Regions from separate parts of the Homo sapiens genome. Here region 2 is linked to region 1. Evidence: fine-mapped expression QTL. Tissue or cell type: lung. Region 1 holds a variant in brackets; the other region holds the start of a gene. All regions are shown on one strand. Distances are between the middles of the regions.

Region 1 (8,105 bases):
TCATGATACTTTTCTTCCTTCTTACAAAATTATTACAAAGTAGGTACAAAATTGTTACAAAGTGGTCAGTTGTAAGCAGCTTATTTAAAGAGTCACTGAAAGCTTCTTTAGGAGTCCTCATAGCTGGATTTAACTTTCATATGTGGTGTACACTTAATGACATTTGGTGCCTGTATTAGGTATCCATGTATTTTTAACAGCTCTTTGGAGTAAAATTCAGCCATTGTTAAGTACACTTGAACAGTTTTTGTAAATGTCCAGAGTTGTGTGTGAGTGTCCATGCTGTTAAATTGTGTCTTTTAGCGGAGATAAGTGCCATTTTTGTTCCTGGTGATACCTTTGACCCAGAGGAAGTATCGGCTCATTTCTTACCTTTGCTTAGGTTGGACCTTGCTGTCCTTTTCATGGTTGTCCGTTAGTGAGAGAGTGTGGTGAGGGGGTTGAGGTGACTCCGCGTACCCCTGAAAGGATTCTTCCTGTGTGCTCTGTGATGATGAAGCGGAGCCACTCTGGGTGCTGGGGGTCTGCGATGGCGGAGGAAGCACTTGCCTGCACGCGCCCTGGGAGGCATGAGCCGCGCTTCCACCCAGGGCCTTTCTGACCCTGTGCTGCCTCTGGAAGTCTCTGTCACCTCTCTTCTCTTAGCTCTGGGAAACATTCATTTAGGAAAAGATCTGTAAGATATTTGTTTGCTGATGATCCCTTTTCCCAAAGACTGGTGTCCTCATATCCTAATGTTGCAGTTTTATAGCTTTCTCAGATTCTCTGGAGAAAGTGGAGGTCATGGTGGTGGCTGTGGGGACTTTGCAGAGTGGCATTTAGACCGATGATGTCTTTAGCTGTGTGGGGCTGCTTACAATGTGTTCTTCCTGCTTTCCTATTTAGGGATTTTCTGTTTCTGACTTCCCATTCTGCCTCTGTTTCCCCCGAGTTTAGCTCTTGCCTCCCTCCCTCCCTCCCTGCCTTCCTCCCTTCCTTTCTTCCTTCCTTCCTTCTTTCCTTCTCCCTCCTCTCCCTCCCTCCTCCTTTTCTGTCCCCTCCTCCTTCCTGTCTCCCTCCTCCCTCCTGTCTCCCTCTTTCCTCATTTCTCCCTCCCTCTTCATTTCCTTCCTTAAATAAGGCATCTTTCCTTCTTGCCACTCTTCCCCCTTTCCTTCCTCCTCATTTTATCTTTCCCTTTCAGATCTATAGCATAGTCCAACCCACTTGGAGCCTATGTGGGCCATGCGGAGTTGGCTGCTGGTGTGACTCAGCAAGGTGGTTGGGGCTGTGGATTTGTTCCAGTGGTCTCATAAACTAATAAAGGAGCCTCCACTCACCTTTAAAAAAACTTCAGATCACTGATTCCTAGAAAAAAACAATCAAATATAAATTAAACATTTTTGTTTTAAAGAATGAAGAATACAGAGTGATTCTGTCTCTACTTTAAAAAATTAAAATCAGGAAATGGAAAACAATGATAATATCAAGTGTATTCTAATTCTGCATTATGGGAAGTTGATGGAAGAGGAGAGAAAAAATAGGAAAAAGAAGAACACGCTTACTAAATACTGAGAGACAGGCTTACTTATTAGTATAGATTTTTAAATGGAACTTTTAAAATATGAAAACAGTCAAACAGAACTAGGCTTTGGTTATGAGAAATATTTTATTTCCTACATAAAATTTTAATATGTGGGAATTGTGGAATTCGTTTTTCCCCATGATTAGTGGTAAAAACTCTTCACCTTTGCCTTGAAACATTGGGGTAGGAGACCTCATTTTACAGAGGAAGATGTCATCTGGTTTTGTTGAGTAACATCTTAAGGCCTTTAAAAATGTTACTTCTGGCTGGGTGCGGTGGCTCACGTCTATAATCCCAGCACTTTGGGAGGCTGAGGCAGGTGGGTCACAAGGTTAGGAGATCAAGACCATCCTGGCTAACACGGTGAAACCCCATCTCTACTAAAAGTACAAAAAATTAGCCGGGCGTGGTGGCAGGCACCTGTAGTCCCAGCTACTCAGGAGGCTGAGGCAGGAGAATGGTGTGAACCCGGGAGGCGGAGCTTACAGTGAGCCAAGATTGCGCCACTGCACTCCAGCCTGGGCGACAGAGCGGGTCTCAAAAAGAAAAGAAAAGAAAAATGTTCCTTCTGAGAGCTTTTAAAGCCTCATGTTTTGTTGTCAGGGACATAGCCGAGAGACAGCCTGGAATTTGTCCAGGTGAAAATGAGAACTGGAAGCTCCTTGTCCCCTGGCTGGGTCATCACTGCTGATTCCTGATCTAACCTATCTGGGGCAAAGAGGGTTTTCTTAGTGTGTTGAGCTGATGCTATGCAGAGTTGACCTGGTGTCTTCAAGGTCCCCACTGCTGTTCTTCTCCAGGTAGTTAGCAGCAACTAGATCCTTAACCCCTGTTCTGTCTTGGTCTGGCCTTTATTTTACAAAAAGACTTTTGGAACTGCTAACACATTTTGGCACAGTGCTGGGGTCCAGAAGTCTGGTGTGTTTGTTATTCATAATGACATGAAAAGGCATTTGGTGGTTTGCTTTCATTTGCAGTGCTGGCCAGAAGAGCTGTGCAGGAGTACATCATTACAGCAATCAAAGAAGTACTGAGGATTCACTTCAACCGTGCAGTGGAACTGAAGGTGAGTCCTGGTGGCTCAGGAGTGTGATGTCTGGTGAGACTGGGGCTGATGTGAGAGCCCCAGGTTAGAGGCAGGTGATTATGGCCATGGAATCATTCTATTTCATCTCTTCCCTCTTGTCTGTTCCTGGTTAAGTCCTGCTCATCCTCTGGATCTCCATTCCACCGTCACTGCATCGAGGAGGTCTTTCCTGATCCCACATGAGGTCAGGGTTAGTCCTTTAGGGGATGTGTTGGCAGAGTTGGAACAAAGGGCTCTCAGACCAGAGGCAGCAGTCTGGGGTGACAGCCTTCGTGATTTTACTTCCCTTGATTCACATGAAAGGACTTGGATTCGTGTTTAAATTAGACGTTAGAGTGAGTACAGGTGCATCTTTCTGGACATTTGGTAGGATAGAGATGGAGATCCAAATCTTTTAGACTGAATGATCCTAGAAAGCCACAGTCCATCTAGAGCAGAGCCATCCGGAACCAGAACCGCGCCCCACGCATGGCGATACAGCAGTGAAATGGGGCTCGTCCAAACGGAGATGGGCTGTGGGTGGAAAATACATACCAGACTTGAAAAATGCAGTGAAAAAAGGAGGGTAGAATATCTCATTAATAGTGTTTTGTATTGACTTCATGTTGAAATGATATTTTAGATATATTAAATAAAATGTATTTAAAATTAATTTCACCTGTTCTTATGTTTTTTAATGTGGCCACTAGAAATTTTTAAATTGCATATTTATTTTGGACAGTGCTGCTCAATAGGATAAGTACTCTTGTCTATGTGTTTTAAATACAACAAACAGCTTGAATGCCCTATAACTCATTATTCAGTTCATATTTCTGACTGTTCTTTCTTGCTGCTCTTATAATTTTGTGTTGTTTTTGCAAAGGTTGGCAGAGAGTAAAAGCAGTAACTAAAATAAAATTTTGATTATCCGTGATGCACTACCCCTTCATTCAAAACTACCAGTTTTTTTAGTTTATAATTTTTTATTTTTCTGTGTAACACAACTTCCTTTAAGTTTGAATTGTCTTTGTATTTCTTATTTCCCTAGGTTTACGAACTATTTACTGACTTCACTTTTCTGGTAACATCCGGTCCTTTCGTTTACACGGCAATATC[C/T]GTCATAAATGTGCTTATAAACAGTAAGCTTGTCCGTGACCAGACTCCTTTAATCCTGTCTGTGAAACCTTCTTTCCTTGTGCCAGAGTCCAGGTTCCAAGTTCAAACAGGTGAGACAGCTCAGCATAGTTGTTTTTATTTGTAAAAAGAATTTCATTTTTTTTTTATCTTTCTAAAATATTGGAAATCATTTTTAGAATTTATTATTATGATGATGATTTTTAGAGACAGGATCTCAGTCTGTTGCCCAGGCTGGAATGCAGTGGTGTGATTATAGCTCACTGTAGCCTTGAACCCCTGAGCTCGAACAATCCTCCTGCCTCAGCCTCCTGAGTAGTTAGGACTAAAAGTGTATACCACCATGCGTGGCTAATTTTTTTTTTAATTTTTTTTTAGGCCAGGTATGGTGGCTCACACCTGTAGTCCCACCAGGTGGGAGCTGAGGCAGAGGAGGTTGGGAGGCTGAGGCAGATGGATCACTTGAGTTCATGAGTTTGAGACCAGCCAGGGCAGCATGATGAAACCCTGTCTCTACAAAAAAAAAAAAAAAAAAAATTAGACCAAGTGCGATGGCTCATGCCTGTAATCTCAGCACTTTGAGAGGCTGAGGCGAGCAGATCACTTGAGCTCTGGAGTTTGAGATGAGCCTGGGCAACATGGCGAAACCTCATCTCTACTAAAAATACAAAAATTAGCCAGATATGGTGGCATACGCCTGTAATCCCAGTGACTTGGGTGGCTGGGGCAGGAGAATCACTTGAACCCAGGAGGTGGAGACTGCAGTGAGACGAGATCGTGCCACTGCACTCCAGCTTGGACAACAGAGTGAGACCCTATCTCAAAAAAAAAAAAAAAAAAGAATTTAAGAAACATTATGTTTTGTAGAGATGGGGTCTTCCTAAGTTGCCCAGACTGGTGTTGAACTCCTGGGCTCAAGCGATCCTCCTGTCTTGGCCTCCCAAAGTGCTGGGATTACGGGTGTGAGCTACCACACCTGACCTTATTATTTAACTTTTAAAAGTGTTTATAATTATGGGAAATTTCAAGCATGTACAAAAGTACGTAGAATAGTTTAACAGACCACTGTGTACTCATATGTCTTCAACCACTTTTCCGTTCCTAGCCAGTCTTGTTATAGCCACACCCCCATCTACTATCTACTTCCCCTCCTCTTGTACTATTTTAAAGTAAATCTCAGGCATCGTATCATCTCGCCCACACATATTTCAGCCTATATAGCCTCTAAAAGATAAAGACTTTAAACATGTATATGAAGTTAACAGTGATTTCTTTTCTTTTCTTTTTTTTGGAGCTGGAGTCTTGCTTTGTTGCTCAGGCTAGAGTGCAATGGCGCGATCTCTGCTCACTGCAACCTTTGCCTCCCGGGCTCAGGCAATTCTCTTGCCTGAGCCTCCTGAGTGGCTGGGATTACAAGCACCCACCACCATGTCCGGCTAATTTTTGTATTTTTAGTAGAGATGGGGTTTCACCATGTTGGCCAGGCTGGTTTCGAACTCCTGATCTCAAATGATCTGCCCGCCTCAGCCTCCCAAAGTGCTGGAATTACAGGCGTGAGCCGCTGTACCTGGCTGTTAACAGTAATTTCTAAATATCATATTTAACTTTTCATTGTGGACATGTTCAAACATTTACAAAAGTAGAGAGAGTACTAAGTCTACATATACCCATGGTTAAGCTTAAAAAAAATTTATCAACATCACCAATTTTGTTTCATCTATCCCCTGTGAACGTTTTTGTGGACACTAGAGTGTTTTCAAGCAATGCCAGGTATCATGTCATTTCACCCATAAATATTCAAGAATTCATCTACAATGAATTTATATATGTTTGAAATGTTTCCATCCATTGTGTCTTTTGATACTCAAATTCTTATCTTAGATATTTTTCATTTTAAAATGATACCAGTCACCGTCACATTGCATGTCTTCATTTACTGCAAAGTTACCTTTTACATTTCCGTGAGAAAATACGTAGAAATGTTACATCACAGTACTTAATCCCATACTATGGATGAATTGGTTGATTTAGATACGATGTTTCTCTCTCTTGATTCCTTAATACTTCAGAAGCACAAACACCTCATTTATGGGACTTTGATTGCTTTTCTTTTCAGTACTTCAGTTTGTGCCTCCGAGTGTGGATACTGGCTTCTGCAACTTCACCCAGCGCATTGAGAAAGGCCTAATGACAGCTCTCTTTGAAGTGAGAAAACACCACCAGGGAACGTATAACCTCACGGTGCAGGTGAGAATATCACTGAATGCAGAGCAGAAGGCTTTAGCCCTTGAAGGGGAAATTGTTCCACATTGTTTAAGATGTGCTTAACTCTTATTCCCTCCAGTGGCGGAAACCCAGTTTATGTGAGTCGGGATTGATCTATTCCTGTGGCGTAAGGTCGGCATAGCGTGCACAGGCTGAGCATCTTTGAGGGTTGCAGAGTAGCTGATACCCAGGGAGCTCAGATATGGTGAGCTGAAGAAACATGACCATATTCAGGAAATTCAAGAATTACCTAGAAAGGAATGGTATCAACCTAAATATCCAATGGGGGAATGCCTACCCATACTGTTGTTTCCATATAGCTACTAAGAACGGGTGTTGTACGTATCATATGGAAACTGCTGATGTTTTTATGTTTCTTTGATTTTTTTCCCTCTACATTCTTTCCTCTCTCTTTCCAAAATGGATGTTAAAATAGATTTTGGTGCTCCTGGATCCACTTTCCATGTTTCTTATTTTTTCCTCATATTTTCCATCTCTTTATTCTCTGTTTTTACAGATTTACTAAATGTCGTCCTCCAAGTCATGAATTTAGTCCTTAGCTGTGTCCATTATGTTATGCAATCCCTCTACTGAATTTTTAAGCTTTTTGTTCATTGTTCTTTGCTCCATTTTCATTGTAGGCTTTCCTGCGATGATGCAGTGTCACCTTAAAAGTCTCTGAGGACGTTAATTAGAATTGTTAAAATGCGTCTTCTGTTTCCTAAGTCATTCCTGTTTTCTCTGCAGTCCTTGCTCTGCATGTTGATCTCGGTGCTTTGCTTTCGTGCTGTTAGTTTCTGTAAATCTGGAGACTGTTGGTTTGTTGTTAGGAATGAAGAACCAAGTTGTTCATTTTAGTAGCTGGCACAGCTTTCCCCTTGAGCTGTGGGGATCTCTTTCTACGTCAGCTCCATCTCCTGGTGGGAAAATTCGTCGGAGCGCTGGGTCTGGGGCAGAATATGTCAGCGTGGGCTTCTCTCTGGGTGCAGTGTGTGGTCAGAGACAAGCAGACAGGGAACACCCTCCTTCCAGCATCTAGATAAAGAGGTTCTTCCTAGGGGATGGGGCACTTTAGTGTGTGTCTCAGGGCAGAGCTAGCTGCGTTTTCATTCATTTTCTTTCCTTCTTCGGTGTGCACAGGAGTTATCTTAGCCTCTGCCCACCTTCTTGGTTAGGGCCCAGACCCACCATAGTCCTCTTAGGCAGGAGTTTGTTTTCCTCAGGAGGCAGTCTTGTTCTGGGTGAGGGCCTGGCTGCTGCTAGCACCTCTGTTGGCCTGGGTGTGGCAGTTAGGAAGGACGGAGGAGGAAGGCAATACACTCAGCTCTTTGGCACAGCCTTGTAATTAATTATACTGATTACCACTGTGTAGCCTGCTCTTGGTCTCATTCCTGCTGATCTCTGCCACAGAGCCCCTCCTGGTCCTCTTGGAGAGCGTGGCCCTTGGCTCTGCTGCAGCCCATGCTTGTGTATGTTTTGGATTCTGGCTTTCTCTGTTCTGGTTTATATCAATCCAATCCCATCCTTTCTTCATCCCCCAGAGGTTTGACGGAATCTCTAGTTTTCTTCCATTCTCAGTGCTGTTGTGGATTTATTCCCCTGTGTTCAGCTTATTGTTATTTCAGTGGCATTTGGGGTGGGAGGAGCTGTACATGTGCTCAGTTCATCACTTAATGTAAGAAACATTTTCCATAAACTGAGCAGTTAAACTCTTACAAAAGGGAACCAGGTTAGAAAGCCAGTTACGTTTCCTTTAAAAACTTTACCTCCTTTAAAAAAATCGGTGAGAGGACCTGTGAGAGAGAAATCATGGTTAAGCTTTCAGCAGAATGTTTTATTATAGAAGCTTATTCTGACTTTATTCTTTCAGATCTTGAATATCACCATCAGTTCCTCAAGGGTGACTCCTCGGCGGGGCCCGGTGAATATCATCTTTGCGGTTAAAAGCACACAGGGATTTTTGAATGGGTCGGAAGTGAGCGAGCTGCTCAGAAACTTGAGTGTGGTGGAGTTCAGTTTCTATCTGGGATACCCAGTGCTGCAGATCGCAGAGCGTGAGTACAGCCCTCTTGGACA
Region 2 (8,105 bases), 71 kb before region 1:
GTGGCTGGGACTACAGGTGCACGCCACCATGCCTAGCTAATGTTTTGGATTTCTTCATAGAGATGGGAGTCTCACCATGTCGCCCAGGCTGGTCTCAAACTCCTGGGCTCAAGCAATCCACCTGCCTCAGCCTCCCAAAGTGCTAGAATTACAGACGTGAGCCACTGTGCCCGGCCTAATTAATCTTACTGATCATTTAGCACATGACTCTACGGGGCGCTTACTTAGTAGGGACTCAGTAAATATTTTTTGAATGTTTATTCTGGCTACTTCTCCACTTTGCACAGTTGTTCCCTCTGCCTGACACCCTCTTCCCCAGCTATCCCCATGGCCCAATGTCACCTTAGTAGGGTGATCATCCCTGACTATTCTATTTAACACAGTAACACTGACCCTTCCCTCACTCCTTTTCCCTCTTTGTTATTCTGCAAATTGTTGTCATCAGCCGAAGGCTCACTTACTGATTGCCTGTCTCCTCTCACTAGAACATAAGTTCCACGAGGAAGGGCCTTTGTTTTGTTCACCGTTATACCTCCAGTGCCCACTGCACTGCCTGGCATATGGTACATGCTCAAAAAATATTCATTGAATTTAATGAATGACCTTTGTGAACATTCATCTTATTTTGTATAATTCTCTTAAGAACCGAACCCACAGCTAAGCAAGGTAGGCATGTGAAGCCCATCATCAGATAAGAACATTTGAGGTTTGAGAGTAGGGTGAAGCATTTTGTTCAAGTTCATAAACTTTTCTGTGACAGAGCAGAACGCAGAACTCAGCTGTCCTGATTCCTATTCTAGGACTCTCACACTACCCTCTACCGACTTCCAGCCATCCTCTAACTTCAGTCCCTCTGTCCCATCCTTATCCAGACCCTAAGAATTGAGGGGCCCAGGTCAAGAGTGCAAATAGGGGCTCACGCAGCCCATTTCACATTTGGCCATTTTGGCCATTTCACATCGATGACCAGATTTTCATCAGCAAGTTACATGCCAAGCAAGCAAACTATTAAATATGTCTGTTCTACCTTAACAAACGTATGTCTTCAGAATGGTTAGGCTGGTTCACAGGCAGGATTCGCAGACTTCCTGCAGTTGTGAGCAGAACATCGCAGCCAGGTTGCCATGTGAATATGGGCCATGCCCGATCTTCTCTTCCCATCCCTGGTCCTCTGCTTCATTCCTATAGGTTTCATGTGCGCATCTTTAGAGATGCCTCCTGCGTAAGTTTTGCCACTCCCTAGCAAACAACTACCCCGTGGGACCAGACACACCCTTGGTGCAGCCTTGGGAGAATGGACTTGAGGAAGAGGCCACATAGGCCTGAAGATGAGCCTGGGGTGAAATGGGCAGGATTCTGGGGTCCTGGGCACCTGAGCATGGGAAGATGGGCTGCTGGTGAGGGTGCTTCCTGGGCTTCACAGACTCTGTCCTGAGGAGAGAGGTGCAGTTTGAGAAGGCCAGAGTGGGGCCCGCTTCGTCTAGGTCTAAGGATAGTACTGAGCCTACCTCTCCCTGTCTCCAAACCAGATTGTAAGCCTATCGAGGACCCAGGTTAATTTTCCCCCTCCCCTGGAGGGTGTGTGGTTTAACTGGAGACGACAATTCCAGTTGGAGTTGAGCCTTATGGAAATAAACTAACCTCTCTGGCTTGTTTCTTTATCTATGAGAATTGGATGAGATGATCTCTAAAATCGATTTTAAAATCTTACACACACACACACATTTGCACACACTCCCCTACCTCCAAGGACCACTCATCCCCTCTGAGTCTGCAGAGTAACACCACCTACCAGCTGGACTGTCAGAGCCTGGTAGACATTTTCCCAGACATGGAGGCAGAATGCCTTAAATCCTAACAGAGGTAAGATTTTGTTTTATGCCTTCAGAGCTGGGAGACTAAGGGACCCTAGGGACCTCACTTTCCACGGACACTTTGGTGTCCATGAGTCATTTCTAGTATCTCAGGGTTCCAATTTTTATTTTTACTTCCAGCTGATCAATCTCTTAATGGCAGGGCAAACACTATTGTCTTTGAGTTTGCAGAGAATGGAGAAGGAGACTCCTTTCTTTTTTCTTTTCCTTTTTTTTTTTTTTTTTTTTTTGAGATGGAGTCTTGCTGTGGCACCCAGGCTGGAGTGCAGTGGCGTGATCTTGGTTTACTGTAACCTCCGCCTCCTGGGTTCAAGTGATCCTCCTGCCTCAGCCTCCTGAGTAGCTGGGATTACAAGCACGTGCCACCATGCCTGGGTAAATTTTTCTGTGTTTTTATTAGAGACGGGGTTTGCCATGTTGGCCAGGCTGGTCTTGAACTCCTGACCTCAGGTGATCTGCCTGCCTTGGCCTCCCAAAGTGCTGGGATTATAGGCGTGAGCCACCGCGCATGGCCGAGGGAGGCTTTTTTCTCTGACACCAACGGGTCTAGTGTAGATGGCAGCTTGCAGGAGGCTGAGGCCAAATCTGAAGATGGAACCTCTTCACGGGCGGAATGCATGCTCTGGCTCAAACCAACGATTGTCTACTGAGGGCTTACTGGGGCTATGAGAAATCCTAAGCAGGATAGCACCATATTTGAATTTCATATTAATTTATTGGAGGTGGGGTGGGGGCTGTGTGTGCAAAGCATAAATTCATAAAAGATAAAACAACACAACAGGACAAGACCATTCAAGAGTTGCACGAAGGCAGTGGTTTGTGGTCAAATGTGCTGTTATAGAGAGTTCAGAGAATAAAGATAAGTGTGTGAATAAGAGGTCCCAGATCTATGGCCATGGTGTCCTGGGACCAGACATATCTGGGCAGTTTCTCTTAGGTACTTACCTGGGTGTGCACGCAGAACCCTCTTTGGGAGACAGGAGCAGTTACTGTAATAAACATAGGGGCTGTATGATGGGGGGTTACAATAACGTGTAAAAACACCAGGAACATCAACAAAAGCTTTTTTTAACCTTTATTCTCATTTTCCTTGAAACTACCAGGTTTCAAGTACCCACCTGTAAGGACCAGGTGTGTACCTACAGAAGAGTGCCCCTGTCCTATTCTTAGGAAGAACTATTCGCCAAGGGCAAGGAGTCCAGAAGAGTTGGAGCTGCAAGGCTGGGCAGCCCCTTCAAGGGCTGGGCCTGGCAGGGGAACCCGACTGAATAGCCGCGAGGATCCCTCTGCCAGTGTAATGATTCACCTTTTCCGCTGTCTGCCATAGTTTTTCTGCACGAGATAGTGTCCCCCACACACACCGTTAATATCTGCTTGATGCAACAATGCCAGTGGGATGCAACGATTCAAAACTTCCAATTCCTCCTCCCTAGACCCTGAAGCCACGGGGCGTCTTCAGAGTGACGTGCCTGGCACACAGTAGGTACTTGACAGATGTCAACTCCCTTCTTCCCGTTCCTCATTCCCCCCGCGGACTCCAACCCTCAAACGCTCTCTGGGCATTCTCTCCACCTCTCAGGAGCGCCACTTTCCCTAAAACGGCCTGGCCTTGCGGGTCTCCCCAGCTCCACGCCCATTCGCTTCAGCAGCCGCCTGCTCAAGGCCTGCTAAGTGCAGGGTCCCGCGGGCCTCCCAGGCCCTGAGCGCAGGGTCGCTTCCCGAAGACCCGCAGAGGTGGCCGCACCTTCTTAAGGCAGGAAGGCGGGGGAGAGCTGCGTGCGCTCTGCTCGCCCCTGCCTTGCACGCTGAGCTCTAGCGCAGGAGCCCGACTTTGTCTGGCTTTGTCCCCTCCGCGGCCCCGAGGCTGTCCTGAGAGCGCGGCGCCCCACACACCTGCTGCCCGCAAGGAGTCGGCGGGAGAGGAGGAGCGAGGGAGGCGAGAGGACCCCTCCCCCGGCTTGCCGGCCTACCCTGATCCGGGCGCCCCGGGGAACGCGCGGCGGGACCCGGGGTTGGGTGCGGGTCGGGGCGGCACCGCCCGGCCCAGGCCCCCCGAGCCCCTCGCGCTCCCTCCGGAAGGCGGGTCCTGGGGGAGGGCTGGGCCGCGCCGCCTCGCCGCCCTTGCCGCCTCTGCCGCGCCGAGCCCCGCGCACGCTGCCCCGGCCGCCCCGCAGGCAGGCAGGCAGGCAGGCAGGCAGGCGTCCGGCCGGCCGGGAGGGGGTGCTCGCCGTCCCGCGCCCGGGCCCGCGCGTTGCCGGGCAGCGGCTCCGAGGCTCCGAAGGGGGCGGAGCGGCAAGGCGGGCGTGCGGCTGGCGCCCCTGTCCTCGGTTCCGGCCCGGCCCGCCCCCGCCTCTCCGGCCTCCCTCCGCGCCGGTGCGCGGCGCCCCGTCCCAGCCGCAGCCGCAGCGGCCGCCCCTCCCGGACCCGAGAGCCGCTGAGCCGCGAGGCCGGGCCGGGGCGCCGGCCGGGAATGCCGGGGGCGCGGCGCCGACGCCGAGGCGCGGCCATGGAGGGGAAGCCCCGCGCCGGGGTCGCGCTGGCCCCGGGGCCGAGCGGCCGACGGCCTTCCGCCCGCTGCGCCCGCCGCCGCCGCCCGGGGCTGCTGCTTCCTGGCCTCTGGCTGCTGCTGCTGGCCCGGCCGGCCTCGTGCGCCCCAGGTAAGCTCCGCCGAGACCCTCGGAACGCGGCCGCGACCCCGCCTGCCTTTATCGCTGCTGTTTTCAAAACCCCGGCTTTCCCCGCCCATCCTCTTTTATTCTCCAGCTCCCTCGCCGTCCTTTCTGGAAGATGCTTTGCCATTCTTCTGGGGCCCAACAAATAAAGGCACGGGGGAAATAAATAATTAAAACGAACAAGCGAGCGGCTTCTGGCCGGTCTTGCTAAGGGGTCTGCAAAGCTGTTCTCTTGTCCATGGAACCCGAAGCGGGTCTGGTGGCTTCATCTCAGAATGTGCCTGGTTTTTCCTGCAGAATGCAGGCACCGGCGTGCTTTTTTGTCAAGGCTGTATGATGTGGCATATCGAATGTTTTGAGATACTTTATTGTCGGGGCGAAGAGGTGGATTCGAGGTGTGCTTTAAAAGAGTATTGCATTACCGGGACAAGCCCAGCGTCCCCCAGATGCGGGCAGGCCGGCCGTGTCCCCCCGTACAGCAGGACACAAAGAACATTCAAAGAAAACCTCTTGGAAAGCGCCCTGGCCACGGATCTTTCCAGGGAAATAGCTATTGGTATTACTTCTGCAAGGCATTATTAGTACAATGGAGTGTGAAAATATTTTGATTCTTAAGTGTCTGGGCATGAAAGGAGTAAGGGCTGTTTTTATAACAGATGCAATTTAGTGACTGTTCATCAGTATGGAATGAAGAGGCATGATTTATGAAGAAGCATAAGGGTTTTGTTGTGGAAGAAATGATTTAATTCCTATTGCTTCTCCAAAATGTTTATTTGTCCACCCTGAGCCTGTACACAGGATGGTCTGGAAACCGTCTCTGAGCTGACACTGCAGGCCAGCGATTGCCCCTGCACAGGCACTTGACCACTTTGAGGCGGAAAAGGAAAGGTGGAAGGAGCAGCTAGGGGTGGAGAGCTGCTGCACACAGAACAAAAACCAGAAAGCCGTGAACGCTGCTCCGAATCCTCCTTTCTCGTGGGAGCAGGGCCAAAGGGCTACTCAGTGGCTGGGAGGAATTGGAACACATTTGAAGGTGTCCCTTGGACCTGTGAGAATTATAACCAGTGCCCTAGAGGGGATGGTACAATAGAAGCACAGGGAGGACTTCAGGGATCATGGAACAGGTCCACTCTGCTTACCAAAGAGGAAACTAAGGCAGAGAAGTGCCTTGCTCAAGGTCACAGTCATCACTTTCCCTGCCTCCCACCCCCGCTCTTGGCCCATAGACATATCCACACCTGAAGCCTCTGCAGAGATTTCCCATAGCTGGGTGGAACCAGGGTTGGGGTGACAGAATGAGTCTCTTTTAGGCAGTATACAGCTAGTGCAAACACCTTACTCTAACCTAGGACCTCCCGTCTCAGTCCTGCTCCTGCGAGTTCCAGCCCTGTGTGTCCAGAGGAGAAGAGATCATTGTCAAGGGTCTCTTGGCTTTAGTCAACAAAGAGAGCCCATCTGATACTCGTGGATTCATCTGTCATAAGACACAGCAGATAAATGGTTTCCATCTCCTGAGTGCTTTTTGTGTGCCAGATGTTGAATTTTATATACACGATCCAATCACGTTGTGAGTTAGGCATAGTTATCCCCATTTTACAGATGAGGAAACTAAGGCTTTGAGTTTAGGTTGGTTTGGCTTCAGACTCTATGACATGCTTCCTTTCTGTGCCTGATGGCTTCCCCATATGAATGTGGCCATCTGGGTGTACTGCAGAGGTTGTGGAGAATATAAGTGCTTCTGGTAACTTTAAAATAAATAGTGAAGCTGTTTGCACTGCCCATCCCTAACCTTCTCTTCTTTGGAAGTCCTTTCCTGCTTCCCCTCTACCCCCAATACAAATATTCAACCTGGAGACATGAAATTAATAATATTTCCATTCTAGACCTGACATCATGGAAAGAGACTTCATCCTTTCACTGGTTTGTATATTGGCTTCAGCCGCTGCCAGGCTCATAGACTAGGAACTAAGAAGTGGAGGGCACAGCCCCTGTGCTCCAGGATCCAGCTGGAAACACAGAGCAGTGAAGGAAGTACAAACCCTTGCACAGACCATTCCCGGACAGGAAAGGCAGGATTCCTTATGGATGACCTGCTGGAGGTGACCCCATCTACTTGAAGACTGTGAGGAACGATCTTGGTGGAGGGTGGCTTCCTGATGTAGCTAGGGTGTGTGTAGGGTGCCTGGGCGGTGCTGTTGATCCTGGGAAGAGGGTGCGTTGCAGTTGCTTGGGCTGCCCTCCCAGTCCTGAGTGTGGTATTTTCACCAGGAGATTTGGAATGTAGGAGAGCTTTGCTGAACACTGCTGTGGTGGTTGGTTCTCTTTCTAAGGAATAAGCAGTGGTAGTCAGAAAATGGCATGGCTTAGACCTGTTTTGGACTTCCTATGTGAGGCAGCATTCCCTTCCGTGGCTGTCTGAAAGCTATCTCCTCCTTCAGCTGGCTTCTCTTGTTAACTTTTGTTCAATAGAGTCCACCTTCCAGGTGGTCCCCTTATTACAGTCTTTGGTTAAATCTCTATGTTAAATCGATTTCTTGTCTATTTGTATTTCATTCAGCATTTTGAGTGTGTTTTTTTAAAAAAAAAATTTACAAGTTTGGTCTTAACCATTGACTGTTGTGGAAACAACTTGTAATGCTTTGGACTTACTTTTGAATGCATTGCTCTTAAGTGATTAGCCATCCACAGTATAAAAACAAAGAATCATGCCCAGTTTCTTCACCTTATTCAGAGATAAGTTTTTAAAAAGTAATAGTTATTATGAAATAGATTGCTTTGTAGGGAATTTGGAAATTACTGAAAGGTACAGAAACCAGTCACCCATAATCTCACAGCCTGTAGGTAACACTAAGTAATTTTATCGTTTTTTTGTTGTTAACATTAAAAAAAGAATTATATGCACAATTGTATTTACTACCATTTCCACTCTACATTTAACTTAAGCATTTTTCCATTCATTAAGTCTTATTTGAAAACTATTTTCTATCCTAATGATTTATTCTTTTATTTCCATTTTTTGGGTTGCTGTAAGTAATGCTGATGAATAGCTACATAGAGAAGGCTCTGCTGGCCATGCGCGCTGGCTCACGCCTGTAATCCCAGCACTTTGGGAAGCCGAGGTGGGCGGATCACCTGAGGTCAGGAGTTTGAGACCATCCTGGCCAACATGGTGAAACCCCGTCTCTACTAAAAATACAGAGATTAGCTGGGTGTGGTGGCATGTGCCTGTAATCCCAGCTACTTGGGAGGCTGAGGCAGGAGAATTGCTCGAACCAGGGAGGCAGAGGTTGCAGTGAGCCGAGATGGCGCCATTGTACTCCAGCCTGGACGACAGAGCAAGACTCCGTCTCAAAAAAAAAAGGCTTTGTGCATGTTTCTTTCCGTGTGTGTGTGTGTGTGTGTGTGTGTGTGTTTTCTTGAGTATACATTTGTGGAAGGGGTATTAGAGTGTGATTAAAATGTAAGGCCCACCAGGCTGGATTTCTGCATCTTTTGTTCAAAATGCTGGGCCCCTAGTAGGTACTCAGTATGTGATTTTTGAATGAAGCAATTTTTGAAA

What was found. PIP is the estimated chance that this variant, and not a neighbour inherited with it, causes the effect.
Region 2: it holds the start of KIAA1549, and the variant in region 1 is fine-mapped to the expression of KIAA1549 in lung (TOPMed, PIP above 0.99).

What each region holds. Positions count from the first base shown.
Region 1 is chr7:138,906,897-138,915,001 of GRCh38, reverse strand. KIAA1549 reads left to right here. Exons shown (of 20, transcript NM_001164665.2): 3 at 2,542-2,630; 4 at 3,679-3,856; 5 at 5,881-6,011; 6 at 7,900-8,083. Among named protein-coding and RNA genes, the nearest start is that of KIAA1549, 70 kb to the left of the region's middle. The variant C/T (reference allele first, on the strand shown) is at 3,747.
Region 2 is chr7:138,977,509-138,985,613 of GRCh38, reverse strand. It overlaps KIAA1549, which reads left to right and starts at 4,225. Exons shown (of 20, transcript NM_001164665.2): 1 at 4,225-4,531. The coding sequence starts at 4,345. RefSeq lists enhancers at 3,448-3,797, 4,420-5,306 and silencers at 3,778-3,907, 3,928-4,307, 4,348-4,477, 5,317-5,611.